Homo sapiens: one gene and its partners. The protein of the gene in region 1 purifies or fractionates together with the protein of each later gene. This does not show direct contact. Each region holds a gene or a part of one and is shown in the gene's direction. Other genes may lie near its edges.

Region 1 (4,205 bases):
TGAAGCTATGCCTTGAGGTTGGGCAAGGTGGCATATCCTAGATCAGAGATCCTCAACTGGGGCCATTTTTCTCCCCAGAGGACATTTGGAAACATGTGGAGACATTTTTGATCATCTGCGGGGGTGGGGAGAGGGGCTACTGACATCTGGTGAGTAGAGACCAGAGGGACCATTAAACTTTCTACAACGCCCAGGACAGCCCCTCCACAATAAAGAGTTATTTGACCTCACATATTAATAGCACAAAGTTGAGGAACCTTGATCTAGATCCACAGCACAGAAGAAAGGATGTAGATTTTTCACACATTAAAGATGAGAAAGCTTGTGCCTGTAATCCCTGTGACTCAGGAGGCTGTGGCAGGAGGATTACTTGAGCCCAGGAATTCAGGGTTACAGTGAACTATCATCGCAGCACTGCACTCCAGCCTGGGTGACAGAGCAAGATTTTGTCTCTTAAAAAAAAAAAAGATGAGGACAGGCACAGTGGCTCATGCCTGTAATCCCAGCATTTTGGGAGGCCGAAGTGGGTGGATCACGAGGTCAGGAGTTCAAGACCAGCCTGGCCAGCATAGTGAAACCCCATCTCTACTAAAAATACAAAAAATTAGCCAGCTACTTGGGAGGCTGAGGCAGGAGAAGCGCTTGAACCCGGGAGGTGGAGCTTGCAGTGAGCCAAAATCTTGCCATTGCACTCCAGCCTGGGCGACAGAGCAAGACTCCGTCTCAAAAAGAAAAAAAAAAAAGATGAGAAAGAGGAAGGGAGAGAAAAAAGAGAGAGAGGAAAGAAAGAGAGAAGGTTTTGGAGTCAAAAAGACTTAGAAATTCCAGTTCTTCCACTTCCCATGGAACCTTGGCAAGTTGCCTTCTCTCTTTCTCTGAATCTCACATTTTGCCTCTGTGAAGTAGGGGTGGTACCTGGTGGAGATGATGCGGAGATGAGGGTGAGGGGTGTGTTGCACACTATGCCCCTAGGATGGGTGAGAGCTTGGGAGCACTGAACCTCCCTTTCCCCTCTTGTTTCTTCCCCCCATTGTCTCCCACCAGCTCCCTGGGATCTCCACTTCACTCTCTGGGATTCCACCAGCAGGAGGCTACTCCTGGAGTTAAGGCGTGTTGTTCAGACTGGGGCATTTTAGGGGGCATAAATAATAATTATGCCTGGACAATGGACATAACATCTAGGGCCTTCTGAAGCAAACCAGGGTGTGGGGTACCCAAACAAGGCAGTAGGCCCCAGGAGGCAGGTCCCTGCAGTCCCAGCAGAGAGCAGGGCACAGGGTTGAGAAGACTGAGCAAACTTCATTATCAGCTCCTTTGTCCCCCACTCTGTCCTGGAGCAATCATTCTGGCCTCTTCCCACTTCCCCAAAAACCCAGTATAAAGGCTGCTTCTGGCCCCTGAAGCCAGAGGCACTGAGAGTGGAGGTCTCAGACTCTTGGAAGGTGAGTTCTTTTCTGGCTGCCCAGGCAGGACCAGTGTAGGCCCTGGGAAGAAGCAGCACCTCATAGGGCAAACACGTAGGAGGCCTGTCCTTAGGAACATCATAGCTAAGCAGACCTGTCCCCGCAGGGGCAGGAGTCTGGGCTAAGGGTGATACTGGAGAGCAGCAACGGAGACTGGAAGACAAATGAAATTTGGTACCTGAGTTATCCCTCCCACCATTCCTTTTCTAGACTCTCCAGCTCAGGGTCTGTTCATGGCAAGAGGAGAAAGCAATCTTGTTTGCTCTTTAATCAAACAATTAAACAAATATTCCCTCTATACTATGTGCCAGGGGCTATACTAGACACACAAAGACAGCCCCAAGAAGGACGGTGGAGTAGTGTCCTCGCTAAAAGACAGTAGATATGCAATGCCTCTTGCTCCTGCCCTTTCTCCTGCTGGGAACAGTTTCTGCTCTTCATCTGGGTAAGTCTCTCCCTTCCCTCCTCATGCGTCTTTCCCTTTTTTCCTTTTTCCTACACTCCCCTCCCCCCGCTTTTATTTGCACTCATGAGGCCAGGACCACAGCCTTCCCTCTTTAGCTGATACAGCTCATCTCCGGTAAGATATCACTTGGACTCAGAACTGTAACCTGGAACTTTCTCTTTTTTGTTTGATTTTTTTTTGTTGTTGTTGTTTTTGTTTTTTTTTTTGTTTGTTTTTTGTTTTGTTTTGAGACGGAGTCTCGCTCTGTTGCCCAGGCTGGAGTGCAGTGGCGCGATCTCGGCTCACCACAAACTCCGCCTCCCGGGTTCAAGCAATTCTTCTGCCTCAGCCTCCTGAGTAGCTGGGACTACAGGCACATGCCACCACGCCTGGCTAATCTTTGTATTTTTAGTAGAGATGGGGTTTCACCATATTTGCCAGGCTGGTCTCAAACTCCTAACCTTGTGATTCGCCCGCCCCGGCCTCCCAAAGTGCTGGGATTACAGGCGTGAGCCACCGCACCCGGCAAACTGTAACCTGAACTTTCAGAAGGAAAAACCACCCACCTGTTAAGATGAAGGGCTGGTGACTGCCCCAGGCTTCTCACACGTGCTTTCTCCCACCTTCAAAACACACACTCGTGGTGTCGGCCAGAAGTCAGGTTCTTGTCCATTTGTGGGTGTGACCCGAGAGATCTCTCCTTACCTAACACCAAGGAAATCCTCCAGTCTTGTCTTCAGGTGGAATTCCTAGGAAAGCTCGAGCGACGTTGCTGGAGCTGTCCACGGTGCTGGAACTAGGAAGCTCTTGACCTGATGGCAGGTTACCTCTTCTTCCCAGAGAATGATGCCCCCCATCTGGAGAGCCTAGAGACACAGGCAGACCTAGGCCAGGATCTGGATAGTTCAAAGGAGCAGGAGAGAGACTTGGCTCTGACGGAGGAGGTGATTCAGGCAGAGGGAGAGGAGGTCAAGGCTTCTGCCTGTCAAGACAACTTTGAGGATGAGGAAGCCATGGAGTCGGACCCAGCTGCCTTAGACAAGGACTTCCAGTGCCCCAGGGAAGAAGACATTGTTGAAGTGCAGGGAAGTCCAAGGTGCAAGATCTGCCGCTACCTATTGGTGCGGACTCCTAAAACTTTTGCAGAAGCTCAGGTAAGTAGTAGGGAGGCTACTGCGGAGGACCTGGGGGAAAAGAGAGTACATTCAGTCTTCTGTTCCCTATTCATTTAGGCTAGTGGTTCTCAAAGCCTCGCATGCATCAGAATCACCTGGAGTTGTTGTTAAAACACAGCTTTCTGGGCCTCACCTGCACGACTTCTGATTTAGGAGGGCTGAGGTGAAGCCTGAGAATTTGCATTTACAACAAATCCCCAGGTGATGATGATATTGTTGGTCTGGGGAGAACCACCGATTTAAACAAAAGGCTTTGGTGTTAGAAACGCCTGTGTTAAATTCTGGTTCTGCCTTTTATTAGCTGTGTTACCTGGGCAAGTTGCTTTGCCTTTCAAAGCTTTAGCACCTTCATTTGTAAAACGAAGATATATAGCACCAACTTCTTAGAGTTGTGGTGAGCATTAAATGAGATAATACATGAAAAGTGTTTGGAATAGTCACTGGGCTGTAATAAACTCTCAATAAGCGGTGGTTATAATTATTATGAGTATTATCATTTCCTGTAGGATTGTCCTGACAGCTAATTAAGAAGCAAAAGATAGGATTAAGGGAGGCAAGTAGGTTTATTTTTAACCTGAAAAGGGATGCCGGGCTCTTGCCTGGAGACTCAGAAACTTGAAATAAATGAGAGGGAATTCTCTACTTTGTTTCCGTCTGCAGAATGTCTGCAGCAGATGCTACGGAGGCAACCTTGTCTCTATCCATGACTTCAACTTCAACTATCGCATTCAGTGCTGCACTAGCACAGTCAACCAAGCCCAGGTCTGGATTGGAGGCAACCTCAGGGGCTGGGTAAGTCAGGGGCCAAATCTTGGGTGCAGTAAGTTCTTTCTGAATGTGTTAAAGTAGCATCTGATGGTGCCAAGCCTCAGGCCAGCAGCTAAGGTTTCCTTAATGTGGCAGGCAATGATGTGCTGGAGATGGCTTGTACTGGCTCAGGAGAACTGATGGTGCACATCTCTTACCAACTCCATGCTCAGTGACTACATGCTTGCAGCTTGACATCAGCCATGGTGGGAGTATTTACACAAAGGAAATAGGCAATTGCTACACATCAGGGCTCCTTTCTACTCCCCATCCTCCCACCCACCCCAAGAGCTGGTATAAACATTTACCAGCATA
Region 2 (3,500 bases), on another chromosome or scaffold:
AGGTGCTCGCCACCACGCCTGGCTAATTTTTGTATTTTTAGTAGAGACAGGGTTTTGCCATGTTGGCCAGGCTGGTCTTGAACTCCTGACCTCAGATGATCCACTGCCTCAGCCTCCCAAAGTACTGGGATTACAGGCGTGAGCCACCGTGCCTGGCACAAGCAGTTTTCTCCCCTTCCTTCCTTCCTTCCTTCCTTCCTTCCTTCCTTCCTTCCTTCCTCTCTCTCTCTCTTTCCTTTCTTTCTTCCTTCATTCCTTCCTTCCTTCCTTCCTTCCTTTCTTTCTGACAGTCTCGCACTATTGCCCAGGCTGGAGTGCAGTGGCGCGATCTCGACTCACCACAACCTCTGCCTCCTGGGTTCAAGCAATTCTCCTGCCTCAGCCTCTCGAGTAGCTGGGAGTACAGGTGCGCGCCACCATGCCTGGCTAATTTTTGTATTTTTGGGAGAGATGGAGTTTCACTATGTTGGCCAGGCTGGTCTCGAACTCCTGACCTCGTGACCCACCCGCCTCTGCCTCCCAAAGTGCAGGGATTATGGGGGTGAGCCACCGTGCCCAGCTATGAGTGGTTTTGTTTCTATTTATTTATTATTATTCTATGAGACAGAGTCTCACTCTGTCGCCCACGCTGGAGTACAGTGGTGCAATCTTGGCTTACTGCAACCTCCGTCTCCTGGGTTCAAGCAATTCTTCTGCCTCAGCTTCCGGAGTAGCTGGAACGTGTGAGCCACCACCCCTGGCTAATTTTTGTATTTTTAGTAGAGACAGGCTGGTCTCGAACTCCTGACTTCCGGTGATCTGCCCACCTCAGCCTCCCAAATTGTTGGTATTACAGGCGTGAGCCACCGCACCTGGCCTCTATTTATTTATTTATTTTGAGATGGGGTCTTGATATGAATTCCTAGACTCATGCTTCTCATGCTTGCTACCACCCAGTCCTGCCTCCTGCACAGCAGTTTCCACTAAAGTCACCCCTTTACGAGAGGCATCTTTTTTTTTTTTTTGAGATGGTGTCTCACTCTGTCGCCCAGGCTGGAGTGCAATGGCATGATCTCAGCTCACTGCAAGCTCCACCTCCTGGGTTCAAGTGATTCTCCTGCTTCAGCCTCCCGAGTAGCTGGGACTACAGGCACCCGCCACCATTCCCGGCTAATTTTTTGTATCTTTAGTAGAGACGGGGTTTCACCATGTTAGCCAGGATGGTCTCGATCTCCTGACTTCGTGATCCACCCGCCTCGGCCTCCCAAAGTGTTGGGATTACAGGCATGAGCCACTGTACCTGGCCTACTAGAGGCATCTTAAAACACATCTCCTGTGTCTCCATTCCAAAGCGCATCTTTGTCTACACTCCTGGGGTCCTCCCACGTCAGCCTCCCAAAGTGCTGGGATTACAGTCATGAGCCACTGTGCCCGGCCCCACCAAATTGTTTTCTAACCTGCTTTTTTCTTGAGGAATCTTCTGCAGCACATGACTCACATGTAGAGCCCCTTGTTTCTTGAGGCCTTCATACCCGTCAGCTCATCTAAAAGTCACTCCTGAGGAGTAAGGGCAAGGGGCATTGGGAGAGGTCAGGCAGCCCTGGGAAGCCTCCCAGCGTGTGTCCCAGGAGGCCTGCTGCCTGCAGACACTGCTCCCAGACGCAGCGGCCTCGGCCATCAGAGCGTGTCCCACGATGAGGTGGCAACTTCCCTGAAGGGCTTGCTCTCACCCAGGGGTGTGGTTCTCCGTGTGCACACAGATAGATAGTTCTACGTTTGCCATATACCATTTATATGCCTCACACAGATTAACCCACTTTCATTTCAAAAAGACCTCCTGTCATCGTGCCCATTGTACAGATGAGGACACTGAGACACGGAATCCTAGTGACCTGTGCAAGGTCACACAGCTGGGAAGGGTGAGGGAAGCGTCTGTGAACCCAGCAGGCCCAGCCCCTGAGTCTAGGCTCCGCTCGGCAGCTGTCATGGGAGCAGAGTCCGAGAAGCACTGCAGGCACCTGCTCTAGGGGGAGAGAGGTGGAGGTGGCAGGTAGAGAGAGGACGACCCCTGGGAGCTGAGACGATGCCAGCCTCACACGGACAGGCTGGGTGACCTCAGGCAAGTCGCTTCCCATTTGGGACCCCAAGGACCCTTCTGCAGACCCAGCTGGGGGTCCCCGATGAGACTGGCTCTCAGAGTCCCTGTGAGTCCCGTCAGCTGAGGCCAGTAATGTCCTGGCACCATCACTGGACATGGTTTGCTCTCCCATGGAGGGGCAGGTGTAGCAGCCAAAAGCGATCCTGAGCTCTGGGCCTCTGAACCCTGCTCTGCCAGCTACTGTGGGTGTCTCTACCCGCTCTGTGTCTCAGTTCCCTTTCCTGAAAAGAGGGGATAGTAAAAACTAACCCTCAAGGTGTTTATTACCAATGCCCTTCATGGAGGAATCCGCTGCTCCAGGCCCTTGCCAGCAGCTGCACAGCTGGGCCTGGGGACCTGGGTGTGGGTCTGTTGAACCTTGGCCCACCCTGGGGCTGTGGTCGGCCTGGACGTGTAGGTGTGGAGGTGCATATTTATTATGGCAATTTTCTGACAGGTAACAGAGTGTGGGGCTCTCTTCTGAATGGGGCTCGTGGAGGCCGTGGGTCAAAAGCCCTAATTTTGTAGTGAGGGCTAAAAGGCTTCACAAGGGAAAGGGCCTGGCTGGGGCTATGGGCCGGTGCCGACCCCCCCTCTCCCACTTTGTTTGCAGTTCTGGGAAGTCATCAGTGATGAGCATGGCATCGACCCCAGCGGCAACTACGTGGGCGACTCGGACTTGCAGCTGGAGCGGATCAGCGTCTACTACAACGAGGCCTCTTGTGAGTGCCTGCCCCAGCCTCCCTATCCCAGCCCTGGACTGACCAGGTCTCAGCGTCTGACTGACCAGGTCTCAGCACCTGGACTCACCAGCTCTCAGCATCTCTGTCCTCCCATGGGTTAGGTTGGCTGAGATGCCAGCAGGCGTAACTGGATGTCAGGCATCCAGACGCACAGAACAGACAATAAATCACAGTCACAAAAGTGAGAGCCAAACATATTAGTGCCATGAGGGCCTGTGCGTGTCCAGGGGCACAGACAGGGATGGGGCAGGCCAGAGACTTTGGAGGCCATAAGAGGGCCTAGAGAAGGGGTCACCTGGAGGGCTTAGTCAGGGGCTCTTTAGCAACTGGTGTGAAGTGATTTCCATATCAAAGTGGTGATACACCCACCTGCCCACATGGACATGTGATTTAAAATTTTATTTAATTTAATAGAGACAGTCTCGATATGTTGCCCAGGCTGGTCTCGAACTCCTGGACTCAAGCGATCCACCTGCCTTGGCCTCCCAAAGTGTTGGGAGTGCAGACACGAGCCCCTGCATCTGGTGGACGTCTGACTGAATCCTGCCTGTCCTGCTCCGTCCTGTCCTGCTCCGTCCTTAAACACAGTGAGGCTTAAGGGTGAAGAAAGTTGCTGAAGCTTGCCTTTGGTCCAGGACTCT
Region 3 (3,500 bases), on another chromosome or scaffold:
GTGCACGGCCTCAGTCTCTGATCCTCTTTGCTCTTTGAGCTCCCGGGGCTCCAGCCCTGAGGATGATCTGACCTCCCATGTGGTCACCCAGGACAGGGCCAGGTGCAGGGCACAGTGCGTGGAAGAGGCCATGCAGCCAGTGGCAGATTGTGGGGAGGGGACGGCCCAGGGCCACGTTCCAGGCTTGGGAGGCTGCTCCAGACCTTGGTAGCTGAAAGTCTCAGTGGGAATGAGCGTTCAGAGGCCAGGACTTGCTCGGAGAATTCTAACCACACCCTGCCTGTTTTATATGTTCAGTTTTCAAAGTAATCAATAGCCACTATAAGAAAAAAACAAAGCCACTTTCAAAGGGTTGTGGTAAGAGGCAGTCCTGTGAGCAGGCCGGCTGCAGGGCCTCCAGGGCTGTGGGGCAGGCTGCACAGGGGCTGGTGGGTCCCATGCCTGGGGGTCTGGGAATAGTCTCTAGGCTGCTGTCCTGGAGGAGGTTTCCCCCAACGCCTGAGACCAGGGCACCATGTGACCCATGACTCACAGTTGCCTGGCTGAGGCAGGCACTTGTTCACCTGGAGCCTCCCTGGGGCCTTTCGGGGCCCGGGGGTGTGGATAGGTGGCTTTGGAGCCACATTTGTCCATCGGGACGTTGGGCTCCCAGCTGGCCTTCCGGGCTTTCCCTGCTCCCAGAACCTCCCTGCTCAGCCCTTGCCAGCCTTACCCCTCCCCTCCACCCTGCCCAGCATGGGGCTCTCCCTGTGTGGATGCCAGAAGCAGTTGGGCCCTCAGGGCTGGTCCCAGGAGGTGCCCCCAGTGAGGTGCTCTGCAGAAACTGCCCAGTCTGGCCTCCTGCTGTCTGTGGCACAGTCTGACTGTGTGTGGTGAGGTCCAGGCCTTCTGCCTCCCACTTACCTGGCCCAGGGCACAGAGACCTCCTTTCCATCCTTCCTCCTGGCCCCCTTTTCGTGTTCCCAAGGCAGGATCTCAGGGTACCAGACTAACCCCTGTTGAACCCCAAGTTTGGTGAGCTTCTGGACCTCCTTGAGGCCCGTGTGCAAAGTCCCCAGTCAAGTGTGCAGTCCTGACTGCTGGGGCGTTGACCACGAAGGGTGCAGGAGCTTCACAGCCAGGCCTGGGTGCTTGCACAGTCGGGGTAGAGAGAGCAATACACTAGATGCCTCCTGTCTGCCTGGTGGAGGCCACGGGGTCAGGATGGTGAATGGGCCAAGTCTGGTAGTGGGGAAGTTGTAAACATTTGAACCACCGGACAGGCCTCATCGGGAAGCATCAGCCTAACCACAGGCCAGGGACAGGCGTCTGAGCAGGCACAGGCCAGGGACAGGCGTCCGACCAGGCTCATGGCTGGGGCCAGGTGGGCCAGGTGGGCCAGGTGGGCCGGGCGATGTGTACACGGCTCCCTTCTTGGCTCAGCTGGGCGCGCTGGGAAGTGCTTGGGGTGCCTGGGCTAGACTCCGAAGGGCAGGGACTCGCCGCTGGAGTTGTCCACGGAGCAGGCCCTCAAAGGTGGGAGCTGGGGCCAGCTCTGGAAATAGACCCCCACAGGGTCCTCATGAGATGTGGGGGACCCAAGGAAGTCCAGCAGGCAGCCTCAGGTGCAGGTGGGGGCAGGGTGGTGTCCAGGCTCAGCCCACAGAGGGTCCTGCGGTTGGGGGTGGGCTAAGGGGACCAGGCCAGGCCCAAAGGGGACCATGAGGGAGGGCAGTCTGGGGCCACTCTGATAGGAGAAGGGGCAGGTGGTCTGCGGCCTGGGGACCTGTAGCCTCACCCCTCCGTGGGGACCTGAGGCACCAGCCGGGCACTCACCGAAGTCATCTGGGACAGGCTTCACCCTTCCGTGGGGGCCTGAGGCACCAGCCGGGCGCCCACCAAAGTCATCTGGGAGAGGCTTCACCCCTCCGTGGGGGCCTGAGGCACCAGCTGGGCGCCCACCGAAGGGCTTCAACACTTGTGCCCAGGCCCTTCGTGCAGGCCCTTCGTCAGACCCAAGAGTGGGCCTGGCTCTCCCCCTGCACTGATGGGACTGGGGCCAGAGCCTGGGGGCCCTGATGCCTCTTGGTCTGAGACCCTCAGCTTAGGGTCAGGGAGGGCTCAGGCTGGGTGAGGCCTGTGGTCCAACGTGCCATATCCATCTCTCTACAGGGCGAGGCTGGCCCTATCGGACCTAAAGGCTACCGAGGCGATGAGGGTCCCCCAGGGTCCGAGGTGAGTCCCACTCCCCACCCACACCCGCCCACCCAGGGGGGCCTGAGGATCCAGAACCCACTGTCTGCCCAGTGCTGGCCCCGTGCCCTCTGAGGACTCTATGGCCCTGGGTGTCCTGGCTCCCGATGGGACCTCTCCCGGCCCCAGGAGGGCCCTGCTTCCCTCCAAGGTCACCATGCTAAGCCTGCTCCCCTCACGCCTCCTCTTCCTCCTCAGGGTGCCAGAGGAGCCCCAGGACCTGCCGGACCCCCTGGAGACCCGGGGCTGATGGGTGAAAGGGTGAGTGTCCAACAGCTCGGGCCCTAGGGCGGAGGCCTGGCCGCCAGAGGCCCTGGGAAGCCCCAGCCCCGCACTGTGGAGCTGCCTGGGGTCCCTGACCGGGCCGGGAGTGCCCGCAGCATCACTGGCTCCTGGCCACAGTCGGCACCTGAGCCAGAGGCCGCCTCGGCAGGGCCCCTCCTGCCCCGAGATCCGGGTCCCAGGGTCCACGGGGACCAGCAGGGTGGCCCCAGGGGAGGGAGCCGGCTTCTGGGCTGACGGAGGGGCCCTGCGGGTGAGGTGCTCCCGGGCCTGTGCCAGCCAGTGGGTATCCCAGGCCAGGCCGATTCGCACGGTGACGGCTACTCTGCTCCCCCAGGGAGAAGACGGCCCCGCTGGAAATGGCACCGAGGGCTTCCCCGGCTTCCCCGTAAGTGTCCGGAGGCTGAGCCCACAGGAACATGCCCAAGCTGCCTGCGGCGCCCTCTTTAGTGGACTGGGCACTCTTGGGTGGGCGGGCTGGCCCCAGGACCGCCGGCTGGCCCAGGAATTCCATGGCCGGGATTCTGTCAGCTCAGGCCCTTCCGCTGTGCGCCCCTCACAGCCTCCCCTCTCAAATCAGAACCCGGTATCACTGCCCTGCTTTTCCATGACAGGGGTATCCGGGCAACAGGGGCGCTCCCGGGATAAACGTGAGTACGCCCCCTCCTCCATCTGGCTGTGGGCACACAAACATTCACAGTCACAGGGACACGCACGTGTGAACACACATGTGCACACAGGCTCCCGAGCAAACACACGGGGTACACAGGCACCCACGGCTGCCCCACTGTCTGTGGCCACAGCCCCAGTTGGCATCGGCTCCTGCAGGCCCTGCGAGGCTCCCACTGTGGTGTGGCCTGTGGGTCTCCTCACGGCCCTGACTGCCCGGTGACCGATCTCCCCTCGGTGCGCAGGGCAGGCCCAGCCCCAGAGGCCGCCCCACGGCTCTCTAGGCCACTCCGGGACCCAGTTTCTCCAGCCCAGGA
Region 4 (3,500 bases), on another chromosome or scaffold:
TATTTTATTTCATAATGCATTGTTTTTGATGACTCAAATTTCACATTCCAATAGACACAGTAAAAAAAAAAAAGACAAAATTCGCATCTCATTCATTATACATTGTTTACCTATTTCCCCTCTACAACATTATTTTTGCATGTCTATACCTTTGTGCAATCTGTAATTCCTTTTTCAATTTGTACTTCTCTTTTTTTTTAATCTTTATGTATTGGATGTTTTTTAAAGCTCTGCATATTAAAAGAAAAAGTATTTAAATATCTAAATGGACATTTTGAATCTTATAATGATTTACTTGCCTTCTGATATCAGAGCAGTAAAAAGTTAATGAGAGTAATAGAAATAACAATGATAATAATGGTAAAGAATGCCTAGATCCACTCCTAGCAGAAGCTGGCATTGCTATCAAATAAATATAATTGAAATCAAAATGTCTGGTTGTGAATAATGTAAAATATATTTGTTTGTGAAAGTAATACAAAATGTTATTTTGAAGGAATTTGAGAAATTTAAGAGTGCATTGCTTTGTTTATATTTTAAAGCTGACTTTAAAACCATATGTGGAAATATTCCTGGATTCACCTTTGACATTCACACAGGAAAAGCTGTTGGTGAGTTTTTCCAGATTATGTTTGTTTTAATACATATGTGTAGCATTCTGTAAAAATCTATTCTATGTTTTTAAAATTCAAGAGTACCACAAAATATAATAATCTGGGATCCAATCTAATATAGTTAGATAAGAGAGAAATAACAGGCTTACAGACTCTAACCAAGTATTAATAATGATACTCCATCAGCGTAGTCTGGTGATTGGGTTATGGTAGTTATGTGACTCTCTCGATATTTGTCACATCCACCAAGCTAAAGCTTCAGTTGTCCTTGTCATGCACATTGTATTACATGACTCTAAATAATCTACCTTATTTTAACCTTTAGTTGCTATTTTCTTAAGTACATTTTTTAATTTTTGGTGTATTTTTGCAGTATCCCTTTTTACTGGTCTAAATATGAATGTGCAGACTTATTTTTCATATTAATTAATTCCTTCTAAATGTACATTGTGTTGCTCACTCTAGCTTCCTTCCTCAAAGATTTGATAAGCAATATAATTTTTTTTTTTGAGATGGAGTTTTGCTCTTGTTGCCCAGGCTGGAGTGCAATGGCGCGATCTCAGCTCACTGTAACCTCTGTCTCCTAGGTTCAAGTGATTCTCCTGCCTCAGCCTCCTGAGTAGCTGGGATTACAGGCACCCACCACCACACCCGGCTAATTTTTTGTATTTTTAGTAGAGATGGAAGTTTCACCATGTTGGTCAGGCTGGTCTAGAACTCCTGACCTCAGGTGATCCACCCTCCTCAGCCTCCCAAAGTGCTGGGATTACAGGCGTGAGCCACCACACCTGGCCTAAGCAATATAATTTTAAGTCTCCATTATGAATATATGATAAAATAAAATACATACAATGATGAAAACATAGCTTTTTAAACAAATGAATAGCAGCACTTAGGGTAACCTGAAGAAGGGGTTTGATTGCCTAGAAAGTTCATTTGCTATATTGACTCTGAAATTACTTGGTATATTTTATCAGCTACTTAGATTTTTTCCATCACTGTTTCTATTTTCTGGTATATATGTTTTTATAAACCAAAAAAATTAGCTATACTAGTATATAATAGATTTTTGTGACACTGAATATTTGTACTCATCCCAGGGTACATGTAGCATTATTCAAAGTTATATGGTAAGTATATTAAACAGAACAACATATATTTGACCAAATCTGTTCCATTTCAGACATTGATGAATGTAAAGAGATTCCAGGCATTTGTGCAAATGGTGTGTGCATTAACCAGATTGGCAGTTTCCGCTGTGAATGCCCTACAGGATTCAGTTACAATGACCTGCTGTTGGTTTGTGAAGGTAATCTGAATAAAGTATGTCCTTTATCCAGTATAATTTGGTATACATATATAGCATTTAGATGGTTTCTGATTTTTACTATTTCTTCTACAATTTTTCAAGAGTTGATCATCAAAGTGTGACGTGAATGTAATGCTAATACAATACTAAAAAGGACTCTTTAAAATGGAATTGTTGCTCTTTCAGATATAGATGAGTGCAGCAATGGTGATAATCTCTGCCAGCGGAATGCAGACTGCATCAATAGTCCTGGTAGTTACCGCTGTGAATGTGCCGCGGGTTTCAAACTTTCACCCAATGGGGCCTGTGTAGGTAAGAAAGAGGCTGACTCATTCTTTGGCACTGAGCACAAGATTCCTTAGATTTCCTATCAAAAAATACTTCAAGAATAATTTGGGAAAGATTTTCTCACTTAACCTGTTCATTTATAGTGAACCTATTTCACCATATCTTTTAGATGATTTTGTTAAGAAAATAGATCTCTTCAATGGATTTCCCCAGGATTGGACCTAAAATAAAATAATATCCTTCAGATACCAATAAACATAAAAAAATTTGCATGATTAAAAAAAGAGGGTTGGATACTTTGAAGTCCTGCTCATTTTGATTCAGCTGTTGTTATGGTTCATTTTCAGCCTGCCTATAATAATTAATAGCAGATTAGAGAAACACAACTGTGAAAAATGAAGAAATCTTAATAAAAATCAGATACATGTAACATTTATTTTTTTCTGTTTTAGATCGCAATGAATGTTTAGAAATTCCTAACGTTTGCAGTCATGGCTTGTGTGTTGATCTGCAAGGAAGTTACCAGTGCATCTGCCACAATGGCTTTAAGGCTTCTCAGGACCAGACCATGTGCATGGGTAAGAAGGGCATGTGGCTCCAGGGAGTGAAGTGGGGCTGGGGTTCCAGAACAGATCACAGTTCCATCAAGTGCCATGAGTAACTACTATGTCTCTGTCAGAAACAATCTTGCAAAAAATTAACTAGGTCAAACTATTTAAGTCTTGATTCAATATAAAATTTGCAAGCAGGGACATACTGCAATATATAAAATTTGCAAGCAGGGACATACTGCGATATGTTCGTCAGTTCAGTGATTCACAGCTTTTTCTCCAGAAGATGTTCACATGGCTTGACAAGAAAAAACCCTCTGAGCCACTTGGGCTTGTGTGGAACTTACCATAGCACCCGCTGCCCTTTACTTTCATGTTTCTACTCAAGACACCATTTTGGAATGCAAGAGAGTAGTAAGAGTGACAGCATTAAACTTAATAAATTTATACACATATGCACATACTTTTTTAAAACAAATTGTTGAATAGTGGGATTTATGTACATATTTTGTGTTTTATCCCTTAAAAATAGCTTTAGGAGCAAATATAGCCAAACTCTTTAAAAATTCCCAGTAGCTAATGTAATGGGTAGCCAAGTGGTAATAGAGCTTAGTGAGTACTTGCTGAGCTGATGATTAATAGGTTTTCAAAGACAGATGGGCTGGATGCCATGAAGCTGGGACTGAGTATAACCCCTTAAGTCTGATGTCAGCAGTTGGCTCTGCCTCTGCTGAAGAG
Region 5 (3,500 bases), on another chromosome or scaffold:
GAGATCGAGACCATCCTGGCTAACACGGTGAAACCCTGTCTCTACTAAAAATACAAAAATTTAGCCGGGCGTGGTGGCAGGCGCCTGTAGTCCCAGCTACCCGGGAGGCCAAGGCAGGAGAATGGTGTGAACCCAGGAGGCGGAGCTTGCAGTGAGTGGAGATTGCGCCACTGCACTCCAGCCTGGGCGGCAGAGCGAGACTCCGTCTCAAAAAAACAAACAAAAGCACACATGCAAGAAAATGCTTTGAAGGGGCTTCAGAAAAGAATAATCAACATGCAAGAAAACGCTATGAAGGGGCTTCAGAAAAGAAATCATCAAAGCAAATGTGCAAGAAAACGCTATGAAGGGGCTTCAGAAAAGAAATCATCAAAGCAAACGTGCAAGAAAACGCTATGAAGGGGCTTTAAAAAAGATATCATCAAAGCAAACATGCAAGAAAACGCTATGAAGGGGTTTCAGAAACGAGAAACCGTTAAAGAAAAGATGCAAGGAAACAACACTGTGAGGGGTTTCAGAAAAGAGAAATCATCAAAGCAAACATGCAAGAAAATGCTATGAAGGGGTTTCAGAAACAAGAAATCATGAAAGAAAAGGTGCAAGAAAACAACGTTATGAGGGGTTTCAGAAAAGAGTAATCATCAAAGAAAACAGCGCATCTGTGAGGCCGGTGGTCCAGACGTGGGGCTGTGGGACCCAAGTGGTGAACTGTGGCCTCATCCTGGGCCGTTGGGTCCTGGGCTATGTGCAGGCGGAGGTGCCGTCCTTGGTCCCACTGGGGAAGGTCGGGAGTCATTGCTGCTGAGGACCACCTGAGCGCTTGCCCCAAGCCTTGCCGTGCCTGGTGGAGTCCCGTACCAGCTGCTGTCCTGCCCCTGCCAGAGACCATGGGTTCCACTGCTAGGCACTGAGCACCCACCCCCTGTGCCCGGCCACTAGCGGAGACTTGATGCTAAGCCTGGGTTACTCTGTTTTTTTTGTTGTTTTTTTTTTTTTTCTTTGCTTTCATATAAATCATTGGTTGTAACTACCGCGATATTAGCCATAATGTGTTTATGTATTATTTAGCATGTTATTATTTGCTTACTGTTGATTTTGAAATGAGGGGGCTGCCCAGGGAGGGCCTGTAGATGTGCTGGGGGGCTGTGGGGAGTGGAGACAGGGCCGCCTGGCATGTGGCCTGGCCCTGCCTGCATGTGTGTCTCAGCAGCTCCTCTCCATGGACAGGTGGGGCCAGCCTGGCTCCCTTGCCCGGCTATGGCTGCTGTCTACGTGAGCGTCCGACCTTTTGGTCCTTGGGGGCTGTTCTGTTCCTAGGATCTCAGAGCGGCCCTGAGTAGTCCACGAGTGCAGACCCACAGTGTGGACTGGAGATGCATCTCGAGTGGTGGCCGGTGCTGGGCCTGCCTCATGGAGGCTGGGGTGTGGGAGGGTGGCATGGGGGCCTTGAGCCAGCACATTCTGATCAGGTGCTGCTTCCTTCCTCTAAGGACCTAGTGAATATTGAGATGTTCCTGACGGCCAAAGAGGTGGAGGAGTCCCTGGAGAGGCGTGAGACGGCCACCTGCCTGGCCTGGTGCCATGACAACAAGTCCCGGCTCCGGAAGATGAAGGTGCACGGACTCCCAGGTTGGGGTGGGAGTGGGTCGGGGCCGAGGCTGCGCCACCTGCCCTGGAGCCAGCACCCCCTTGCCTGGTGGTTCACAGTAGTTTGGTTTTGGTTTGTAAGGTGGGGGTTGGGTTTGGGAGTTTTTTTGGTGGCTGTGTTACACTTTTAGGCTAAAATCTGGAAAAGTGCACCTCATTTGGCATTACAGTTTGTGTACAGCTGGCATGAGGCTCAGAAGGAGTGGGTTACAGGAGGCTGACCATGTGCACACAGAGTGTTGGGGCTGCTGGGCTTAGAGCCTGGAGACAGGTCAGTCCTGCTCCATGGGGGTACTCCATGGGCTCCCTGTGCTCAGTCATAGACACAGAAAAGCTGGTTGGGAAGTCATTCTCCATCTGCGAGGCTGCAGAGCTCTGGGCTGTGATATTGTTAATGAATACCCACTTTTTTTTTTTTTTTTTTTTTTTTTTTTTTGAGACGGAGTCTCGCTTTGTCGCCAGGGTGGAGTGCAGTGGCACGATCTTGGCTCACTTGCCTCCGGTGTTCAAGCGATTCTCTTGCCTTGGCCTCCTGAGTAGCTGGGATTATAGGCATGCGCCACCATGCCCGGCTAATTTTTGTATTTTTAGTAGACATGGGATTTCACCACGTTGGCCAGGATGGTCTTGATCTCCTGACCTTGTGATCCACCTGCCTCAACCTCCCAAAGTGCTGGGATTACAGGCGTGAGCCACCGTGCCCGGCCGAGTACCGACTTTTGTAGAGACCAAAAGAAGCTTAAGAAATGGACTCCTAAAGGACAAAATTTAAACCTGCTTATTAAAAGGCATTGTCACCCTAGGGGCTTGCAGAAATGTTTTAACTTATGTTAACACTTCTGCCTCCATTAGCAAAACTTTTCTGTCTTCTAAACTGAGCGCTGCTTTAACCTCACCCTGGCTGAGTTTGGCAGGGTGCACGCAGTTACCAGCCAGGAGTGACACACTGCCACTCAGGGCCGCCAAAACAAGCACGAAGCAAAGACGGGACGAAAAAGTAGAGCGGCTAGTAGCTCCCCTAAAGAGAGTTTGGACCTTGGTATGGAAACCCTAAAAGGAAAGCCAGAATTGGTATGTAACCTGCGGCCCCACTACACAGTGCCAGCCCCACACTCCCTCCCAGAGAGCCGGCACACACCTCACAGTGGGAACTCTGCCAGGGCTGTTTCCTGTGGATGTCAGAGGGAAGATAGGTTCTTGGTGCTGCCAGGATATTCCTGCAAGCCCTAATTACCTGCCGGACAGTGTTGCTGGAGGGTGTTGGAGGCTTGCCACGAGCACACGACCTGTCTGAAGCTGCTGTGGGGACAGGCAGGGCCAGGACTCGGGGCCCTGAATGCATGCCTGGGGGACGAGTGTGCCTGGTGTTGGATGAAGTTGAGATTGGATGCCTGGTGGATGAGCGTGCCTGGTGTTGGATAAGTTGAGATTGGGTGAGCATGCCTTGTGTTGGATGAGTTGAGATTGGATGAGCGTGCTTGGTGTTGGATGAAGTTGAGATTGGATGCCTGGTGGATCAGTGTGTCTGGTGTTGGATGGAGTTGAGATTGGATGCCTGGTGGATGAGTGTGCCTGGTATTGGATGAAGTTGAGATTGGATGCCTGGTGGATGAGTATGTCTGGTGTTGGATGAAGTTGAGATTGGATGCCTGGTCAATGAGTGTGCCTGGCGTTGGATGAGTTGAGATTGGATGCCTGGTGGATGAGCGTGTCTGGTGTTGGATGAGTTGAGATTGGATGCCTGGTGGATGAGTGTGTCTGGTGTTGGATGAAGTTGAGATTGGTTTGGATGAAGTTGAGATTGGATGCCTGGTGGACGAGTGTGTCTGGTGTTGGATGAAGTTGAGGTTGGA
Region 6 (2,928 bases), on another chromosome or scaffold:
CAGAGTCCTGCTATCAGCTGGGCTGGCCTCAAACCCTCCATGGCTAGTCACTGCCATAATTGATGGGTCATTTTTTTCACCCTTCATCTTTGTGTTCAGCAAACATTTCCTGAGTGCTCACAGTGGTCAGGCCCAGTCCAGGCAATGTAGACACAGCCTCAATCAGGACGACCCTGGTCCTGCTTTTCTGGGGCTCATGGTGTGGTGGGAGAGGCAGTCGGTAAGCAGGATTCAGGAGTATAGTCTAGAGCACTGGATGGAGGTCATTGCAGGAGCAGGTTGGGGAGTGGGTGCCTGAGAAGGGGGACAGGGGCGGGGGGAAGGGGGTAAGCAATGGAAAGAGTGTGGGTGGAATAGCCAGTGTGGAGATGTATGCAGCATACAGCAGCCGCTAGTTTTCCTCAGCTTCACATCCTGGGTGTCGGGGGGCTGCCACCTTGATCATGGGAGTGCCCAGTGTAGTCAGTGCCATACCTATCAGGGCAGATTGTTCCTCCAAACCCCAGCCCCTCCTGCAGGGCCAGCCTCACCTCTACTTTTCCCCTAAGCTTTTGTGCCAGCTCCGGGGTTCCTTCTTGCCTGTCCACTCAGCCTGCCCTGGTCCTCTCCTAACCAGGATGCCCCAGGCAACCACTGTTTCTCTGCCTTTAGGTTCCTGGAGTTTGACAGAGGATAGAGATGTTTCTGGAGAATGGCCACGAGCTTTCCCAGATACCCCACCTGGGATGACTACTAGCGTCTTCCCTGTTGCCGGTGCCTGCCACAGTGTAAAAAGCCTGCAGAGACAACGGGGTGCCTCCCCATCTCGGGAGAGAAAACCCACGGGGGTGTCGGTGATCTACTGGGAGAGGCTCCTGCTAGGCTCAGGCAGTGGGCAAGCCAGCGTCAGCCTGCGACTGACCTCCCCGCTTAGGCCTCCCGAGGGCGTCCGGCTTAGAGAAAAGACACTCACAGAGCATGCGTTGCTGGGGAGGCAGCCCAGGACGCCTGAGCGGCAGAAACCATGTGCACAGGAGGTCCCTGGGAGAACCTTTGGGAGCGCCCAGGACCTGGAGGCTGCCGGCGGTCGGGGACATCACCGAATGGGTGCAGTTTGGCAGGAGCCTCATAGACTCCTCGGTGGCCAGGAGCCCTCGACCTGGGACGAGCTGGGCGAGGCTCTTCACGCTGGGGAGAAGTCCTTCGAATGCAGGGCGTGCAGCAAAGTGTTCGTGAAGAGCTCCGACCTCCTCAAGCACCTACGCACCCACACCGGGGAGCGGCCCTACGAGTGCGCCCAGTGCGGCAAGGCCTTCAGCCAGACGTCGCACTTGACGCAGCACCAGCGCATCCACAGCGGCGAGACGCCCTACGCGTGCCCCGTGTGCGGCAAGGCCTTCCGGCATAGCTCCTCGCTGGTGCGGCACCAGCGCATCCACACGGCCGAGAAGTCCTTCCGCTGCTCCGAGTGCGGCAAGGCCTTCAGCCACGGCTCCAACCTCAGCCAGCACCGCAAGATCCACGCGGGTGGGCGTCCTTATGCTTGCGCACAGTGTGGCCGCCGCTTCTGCCGCAACTCGCACCTGATCCAGCACGAGCGTACGCACACAGGCGAGAAGCCCTTCGTGTGCGCGCTCTGCGGTGCTGCCTTCAGCCAGGGCTCCTCGCTCTTTAAGCACCAGCGCGTGCACACAGGCGAGAAGCCCTTCGCCTGCCCACAGTGCGGCCGCGCCTTTAGCCACAGCTCCAACCTCACCCAGCACCAGCTCCTGCACACGGGCGAGCGGCCCTTCCGCTGCGTGGACTGTGGCAAGGCCTTCGCCAAGGGCGCCGTGCTGCTCAGCCACCGGCGCATTCACACGGGCGAGAAGCCCTTCGTGTGTACGCAGTGTGGCCGCGCCTTCCGTGAGCGCCCGGCCCTCTTCCACCACCAGAGGATCCATACCGGCGAGAAGACCGTCCGGCGATCCAGGGCCAGCCTGCACCCCCAGGCCAGGTCTGTTGCCGGGGCATCATCAGAAGGTGCGCCAGCGAAGGAAACCGAGCCCACTCCCGCCTCGGGCCCAGCCGCCGTCTCGCAGCCAGCGGAGGTCTGAGGTCACAGGTTGCAGCCCTGGCCTTCTGTGAATCCCTTCCACAGCTAAAGGGCATATGTCCTCTGCAGATCCACAGCAGAGAAAAAGTCCCGTGCTTGCTAGTCAGGGACAAGGGAGGCCCTTTGGCTGTGATTTCATTTGCACGTGGGGACAGGATTTGCCAGTTCACCCACAGATCACACCTCCATCCCCAAAGAGGTAGCACTGCAGCAACATCAGGGGGAGGACGTGGTGGCTGAACTCTAGTGGGGCCGAGACTATTCAGAGCCAGTAGGAGGCCGACAGTCACAGCACTGCACTGTGGTGCGGCTTCATGTGATATGACAGTGGATGCTAAGGTGAGAGGGATGCAGGCATGGGTTGGGGGTGGCCCAGAGAAACTTATGACAGCTGTACACAAACTGGCCGCTGGAGAGATGCCCGCTGAGGGTATTCTCCCCTCAACCCACTGCCTCTGTTCATCCAAGACTTCCTAGGGGCCAGCCTAGCAGACAAGAGACCACAAGGGACTGGGGATCAGGGTCTGGGCTCTGTCAGCCGCCACCTCTGGGAAAGAGAAAAGGTTTGGGTCCACTGAACATCATGTTTGTAGACGCTGACAGGTGGGGTCCTAATGAGAGCCAACACATGCTCACTGCCAGCTCCTGTCCTGAGTACTGGGAAGTTTCTCCTGAAGCCCTGTGAGATGGCTCTGTGGCTGGTATCCCGACTTGGAAGATGAGGAAACTGAGGCACACGGCCTGGCCTGGCTTCACACACATAGCCGACTCAGGAGAGGGATGCCCATGGGGGAACATGTGACTCTCAGCATTGGAAGGACAGAGCTAGGATGATGGCTTTCCGGTGGCACTCG
Region 7 (3,500 bases), on another chromosome or scaffold:
TCAACTGAAAAGAAGCTTTCCCTTCTCCTTTCATTATTATCACTTCACACTCATATTCTTATTTTATTCAATAGGTTATAATCCATTGCAGTTATTTAATGTTCAAATTGTCTTAGGTCTGACCAGAGGGAGTCCCTGGTTCCTATGTCTTTTTTAAAAATTGAGCTATAATTCACTTACCATTAAACTCACTCTTTTAAAGTACTCTGTCCAGGTGCAGTGGCTCATGCCTGTAATCCCAGCACTTTGGGAGGCTGAGGCAGGTGGATCACCTAAGGTCAGGAGTTCGAGACCAGCCTGGCCAACATGGTGAAACCCTGTCTGTACTAAAAAATACAAAAATTAGCTGGGCGTGGTGTCATGTACCTGTAATCCCAGCTACTCAAGAGGCTGAGGCAGGAGAATCGCTTGAACCCAGGAGGCAGAGGTTGCAGTGAGCCAAGATTAAGTCACTGCACTCCAGCCTGGGTGACAGAGCAAGACTCTGTATCAAAATAAATAAATAAAGTACAACTCTGGATGGGCATGGTGGCTTATGTCTGTAATCCCAGCACTTTGGGAACTTGAGGCGGGTAGATTGCTTGAGTCCGGGAGTTTGAGACCAGTCTGGGTAATATGGTAACCCTGTCTACCAAAAATACAGGTATTAGCCAGTCTCATAACTCGGTCTCAAAATAAATAAATACATACATACATAGATGAAAATTTAAAAAATAAAGTCCAACTCAGCGGTTTTCAGCATATTTACAGAGTTGTACAATCTTCACCACTATCTAATTTCAGAACATTTTCATCACCCCCAAAAGAAACCTAACCCATTGACTGTCTCTCCATTTCCTCCCTCTCCCTAGCCTCTGGCAACCACTAATCTCTTTTTTGTCTCTATAGATTTGCCTATTTTGGACAGTTCATATACAAGGAATCATACCACATGTAGCCTTTTGTGTCCGGCTTCTTTGATTAATAGAATGTTTTCAAGGCTCATCTATGCTGTAGCCTGTATCAGCACTTCATTCCTTTCTATGGCTGAATAATAGTCCACTGTAGGGATGTGCCATGTTTTTCCACTAGCTGATGGACATTTGGGTTGTTTCCACCTTCTGGCTATTATAAATATTGCTGCTATAAATATTCACTTACAAGTTTTTGTGTGGACATATGTTTTTATTTCTTCTGGTATATCCTTCGGAGTGGAACTGCTGGATCAGGTGGTAACTCTAGGTCTAACCTGGCAGTTAAACAGAATCCTATGCATGCTGTAGTCCATGAGTTGAAATAAACACTTGACCCATAGTAAGTGCCAGATCATCTTCATTTCACAGCAACCAGTAATTTCACAGATGAGGAAATGAAGGCTCCCAGAGGTGAACTGGCTTTTCCCATTTGAGCAGTTCCAAGTCAGACAGTTAAAAAGTGGCAGGACCTGGAAGAGAAGCTAGTTCTTTCACCCTGGCATTCAGGGCTGCCTCCTGGGCTACGGGGCTGGCATTTAGAATAGAGCTAAGGTCTGCTGCCAAGGCAGGTGCCCCAGTCTGCCTCCTCTGTGTCCTTATTCCACTTTCTCTGCAGCCCTCCAGGGGACCCCTCTCTCAGCCACCCTCTCTCTGGTGATGTCACAGTGCTGCCGGAAGATCAAAGATACGGTGCAGAAACTGGCTTCGGACCATAAGGACATTCACAGCAGTGTATCCCGAGTGGGCAAAGCCATTGACAGGGTGAGCACGTGGCCGGCTCCAGGCGTGGGGTGGGAGCACCCTGAAGCTGGGATGTACAAGGACTCGAAGGAGAGCCAGCAAGAGTGCCCGCATCACCAGGCCCTGTCTCTCCTCCTTCGTCAGAACTTCGACTCTGAGATCTGTGGTGTTGTGTCAGATGCGGTGTGGGACGCGCGGGAACAGCAGCAGCAGATCCTGCAGATGGCCATCGTGGAACACCTGTATCAGCAGGGCATGCTCAGCGTGGCCGAGGAGCTGTGCCAGGTACAGTCGGGCTGGGCGGGCGCAACAACCTGCCTGCTCTGCCTTTCACCTGCTAGTTTTCACTGTATGAAGTCCCTACCATTCTCAAATCCATTTATTTCCTAAAGGAAATCAGCACCTCTGCCAGAAGCAGAAGGTAGCTTTAAAAACATATATGATGAAAAGAGAAGTTACTCATTTTTAGTTAGAGTTGGTTGCCAGCCAGGGCTCTGAGCTGAGGCCTCATATCCCTTTATTGAAAAGGGAGCTGAGTGAAATGACAAAGTAGTACTTGTTAGGTGTTAAAGACACACTGGTGGTAAAAGTAAAAGATTTTCCCTACTGTACTAGGAGGATTGAAGAGGAGTAATTTTCTCGCCATGCAACTCAGTGCGTAGCCTGGGGACTGTCTCCACTGCTACGGTTGTGGGGTGGGGTCTGCAGTCTGCACTCGAGGTCAGCATGTCATACTCAGCCTCCCCAGGACTGAGATGGGAACAAGAGAGGCCCAAGTGGCTGGCAGGAGACCAAGCTCCTCAAGCAAAGCCCAGCTCTCTGGCCTGTCTTTGGCGGGTGAGCTTTTATTATGTGCATAGCAGAGAACTTTGGAAACACCATCTTCCAGTGGTGGGATCTCTTCTCTCTCTCCTTGTAGGAATCAACGCTGAATGTGGACTTGGATTTCAAGCAGCCTTTCCTAGAGTTGAATCGAATCCTGGAAGCCCTGCACGAACAAGACCTGGGTCCTGCGTTGGAGTAAGGAGGCCCTTGGGTGGGCCAGCAGCATTCTGCTTCGACCTCTCAGGGCACAGGGCTTGACTGTGGTCTTCATTTCACCCAGATGTACTTGACTTGCCTGCAGCCCTGTCTCAAGAGCCTCACACAGGCTTTTGGGGCCCTCCTCTCAGGTGCTGGCTCTCAGGTCCTAGCCCCCACCAGCTCTACACTAAACTGGCCCCTTTCTTCCCAGATGGGCCGTCTCCCACAGGCAGCGCCTGCTGGAACTCAACAGCTCCCTGGAGTTCAAGCTGCACCGACTGCACTTCATCCGCCTCTTGGCAGGAGGCCCCGCGAAGCAGCTGGAGGCCCTCAGCTATGCTCGGCACTTCCAGCCCTTTGCTCGGCTGCACCAGCGGGGTGAGTGCCCAGGCAGCTGGGGTTGTGCTGCCTGGCCTGACACATGTCTGGATGTGGTAGGTTACATCAGGCTGCCAGTCCCTGCACCCATGTGGGGCTGTCTGTTACACAGATGCCTCTCCCCAACTAGAAACTTCTCTGACCCCTCGTGTCCAGGATGAACTCTAGACTCCTCCTCTCTCACATCTGCCATACCTTTAGTTTATAGCTTCAGCGCAGACCACCCAGGGTCCTCGTGCCTGCTATGCGCCACACCACACTCATTTAGAGCATGCCATGCCCGTCCCACCTGTTCTGCCTCGTATGCCTCCCTGACCTGTGTGGCCTATGGAAAAGTCCTTTAAGAAAAAAAAAAAGGCCAGGCACGGTGGCTCACGCCTGTAATCCCAATATTTTGGGAGGCCG

Evidence for each region.
Region 2: the proteins of PRG3 (region 1) and TUBB3 purify together in Homo sapiens (affinity purification with mass spectrometry; 2 studies listed by BioGRID and IntAct, with this or other methods). This does not show direct contact.
Region 3: the proteins of PRG3 (region 1) and COL6A1 purify together in Homo sapiens (co-immunoprecipitation; 2 studies listed by BioGRID and IntAct, with this or other methods). This does not show direct contact.
Region 4: the proteins of PRG3 (region 1) and FBN2 purify together in Homo sapiens (affinity purification with mass spectrometry; 2 studies listed by BioGRID and IntAct, with this or other methods). This does not show direct contact.
Region 5: the proteins of PRG3 (region 1) and MAEA purify together in Homo sapiens (co-immunoprecipitation; 3 studies listed by BioGRID and IntAct, with this or other methods). This does not show direct contact.
Region 6: the proteins of PRG3 (region 1) and ZNF324 purify together in Homo sapiens (affinity purification with mass spectrometry; 2 studies listed by BioGRID and IntAct, with this or other methods). This does not show direct contact.
Region 7: the proteins of PRG3 (region 1) and RMND5B purify together in Homo sapiens (affinity purification with mass spectrometry; 2 studies listed by BioGRID and IntAct, with this or other methods). This does not show direct contact.

The regions. Positions count from the first base shown.
Region 1 is NC_000011.10:57,378,351-57,382,555, reverse strand, and holds the start of PRG3 (proteoglycan 3 precursor), read left to right. Parts: upstream 1-1,405; 5' UTR 1,406-1,442; intron 1,443-1,774; 5' UTR 1,775-1,847; coding exon 1,848-1,908; intron 1,909-2,748; coding exon 2,749-3,062; intron 3,063-3,743; coding exon 3,744-3,875; intron 3,876-4,205. UniProt on the Homo sapiens protein: Possesses similar cytotoxic and cytostimulatory activities to PRG2/MBP. In vitro, stimulates neutrophil superoxide production and IL8 release, and histamine and leukotriene C4 release from basophils.
Region 2 is NC_000016.10:89,929,842-89,933,341, forward strand, and holds part of TUBB3 (tubulin beta-3 chain), read left to right. Parts: intron 1-2,729; coding exon 2,730-2,838; intron 2,839-3,500. UniProt on the Homo sapiens protein: Tubulin is the major constituent of microtubules, protein filaments consisting of alpha- and beta-tubulin heterodimers. Microtubules grow by the addition of GTP-tubulin dimers to the microtubule end, where a stabilizing cap forms.
Region 3 is NC_000021.9:45,995,270-45,998,769, forward strand, and holds part of COL6A1 (collagen alpha-1(VI) chain precursor), read left to right. Parts: intron 1-2,151; coding exon 2,152-2,214; intron 2,215-2,430; coding exon 2,431-2,493; intron 2,494-2,851; coding exon 2,852-2,902; intron 2,903-3,128; coding exon 3,129-3,164; intron 3,165-3,500. UniProt on the Homo sapiens protein: Collagen VI acts as a cell-binding protein.
Region 4 is NC_000005.10:128,304,246-128,307,745, reverse strand, and holds part of FBN2 (fibrillin-2 precursor), read left to right. Parts: intron 1-542; coding exon 543-611; intron 612-1,797; coding exon 1,798-1,923; intron 1,924-2,109; coding exon 2,110-2,235; intron 2,236-2,663; coding exon 2,664-2,789; intron 2,790-3,500.
Region 5 is NC_000004.12:1,320,891-1,324,390, forward strand, and holds part of MAEA (E3 ubiquitin-protein transferase MAEA), read left to right. Parts: intron 1-1,490; coding exon 1,491-1,613; intron 1,614-3,500.
Region 6 is NC_000019.10:58,470,080-58,473,007, forward strand, and holds part of ZNF324 (zinc finger protein 324A), read left to right. Parts: intron 1-651; coding exon 652-2,075; 3' UTR 2,076-2,928. UniProt on the Homo sapiens protein: May be involved in transcriptional regulation. May be involved in regulation of cell proliferation.
Region 7 is NC_000005.10:178,141,014-178,144,513, forward strand, and holds part of RMND5B (E3 ubiquitin-protein transferase RMND5B), read left to right. Parts: intron 1-1,569; coding exon 1,570-1,715; intron 1,716-1,838; coding exon 1,839-1,979; intron 1,980-2,613; coding exon 2,614-2,714; intron 2,715-2,928; coding exon 2,929-3,095; intron 3,096-3,500. UniProt on the Homo sapiens protein: Core component of the CTLH E3 ubiquitin-protein ligase complex that selectively accepts ubiquitin from UBE2H and mediates ubiquitination and subsequent proteasomal degradation of the transcription factor HBP1.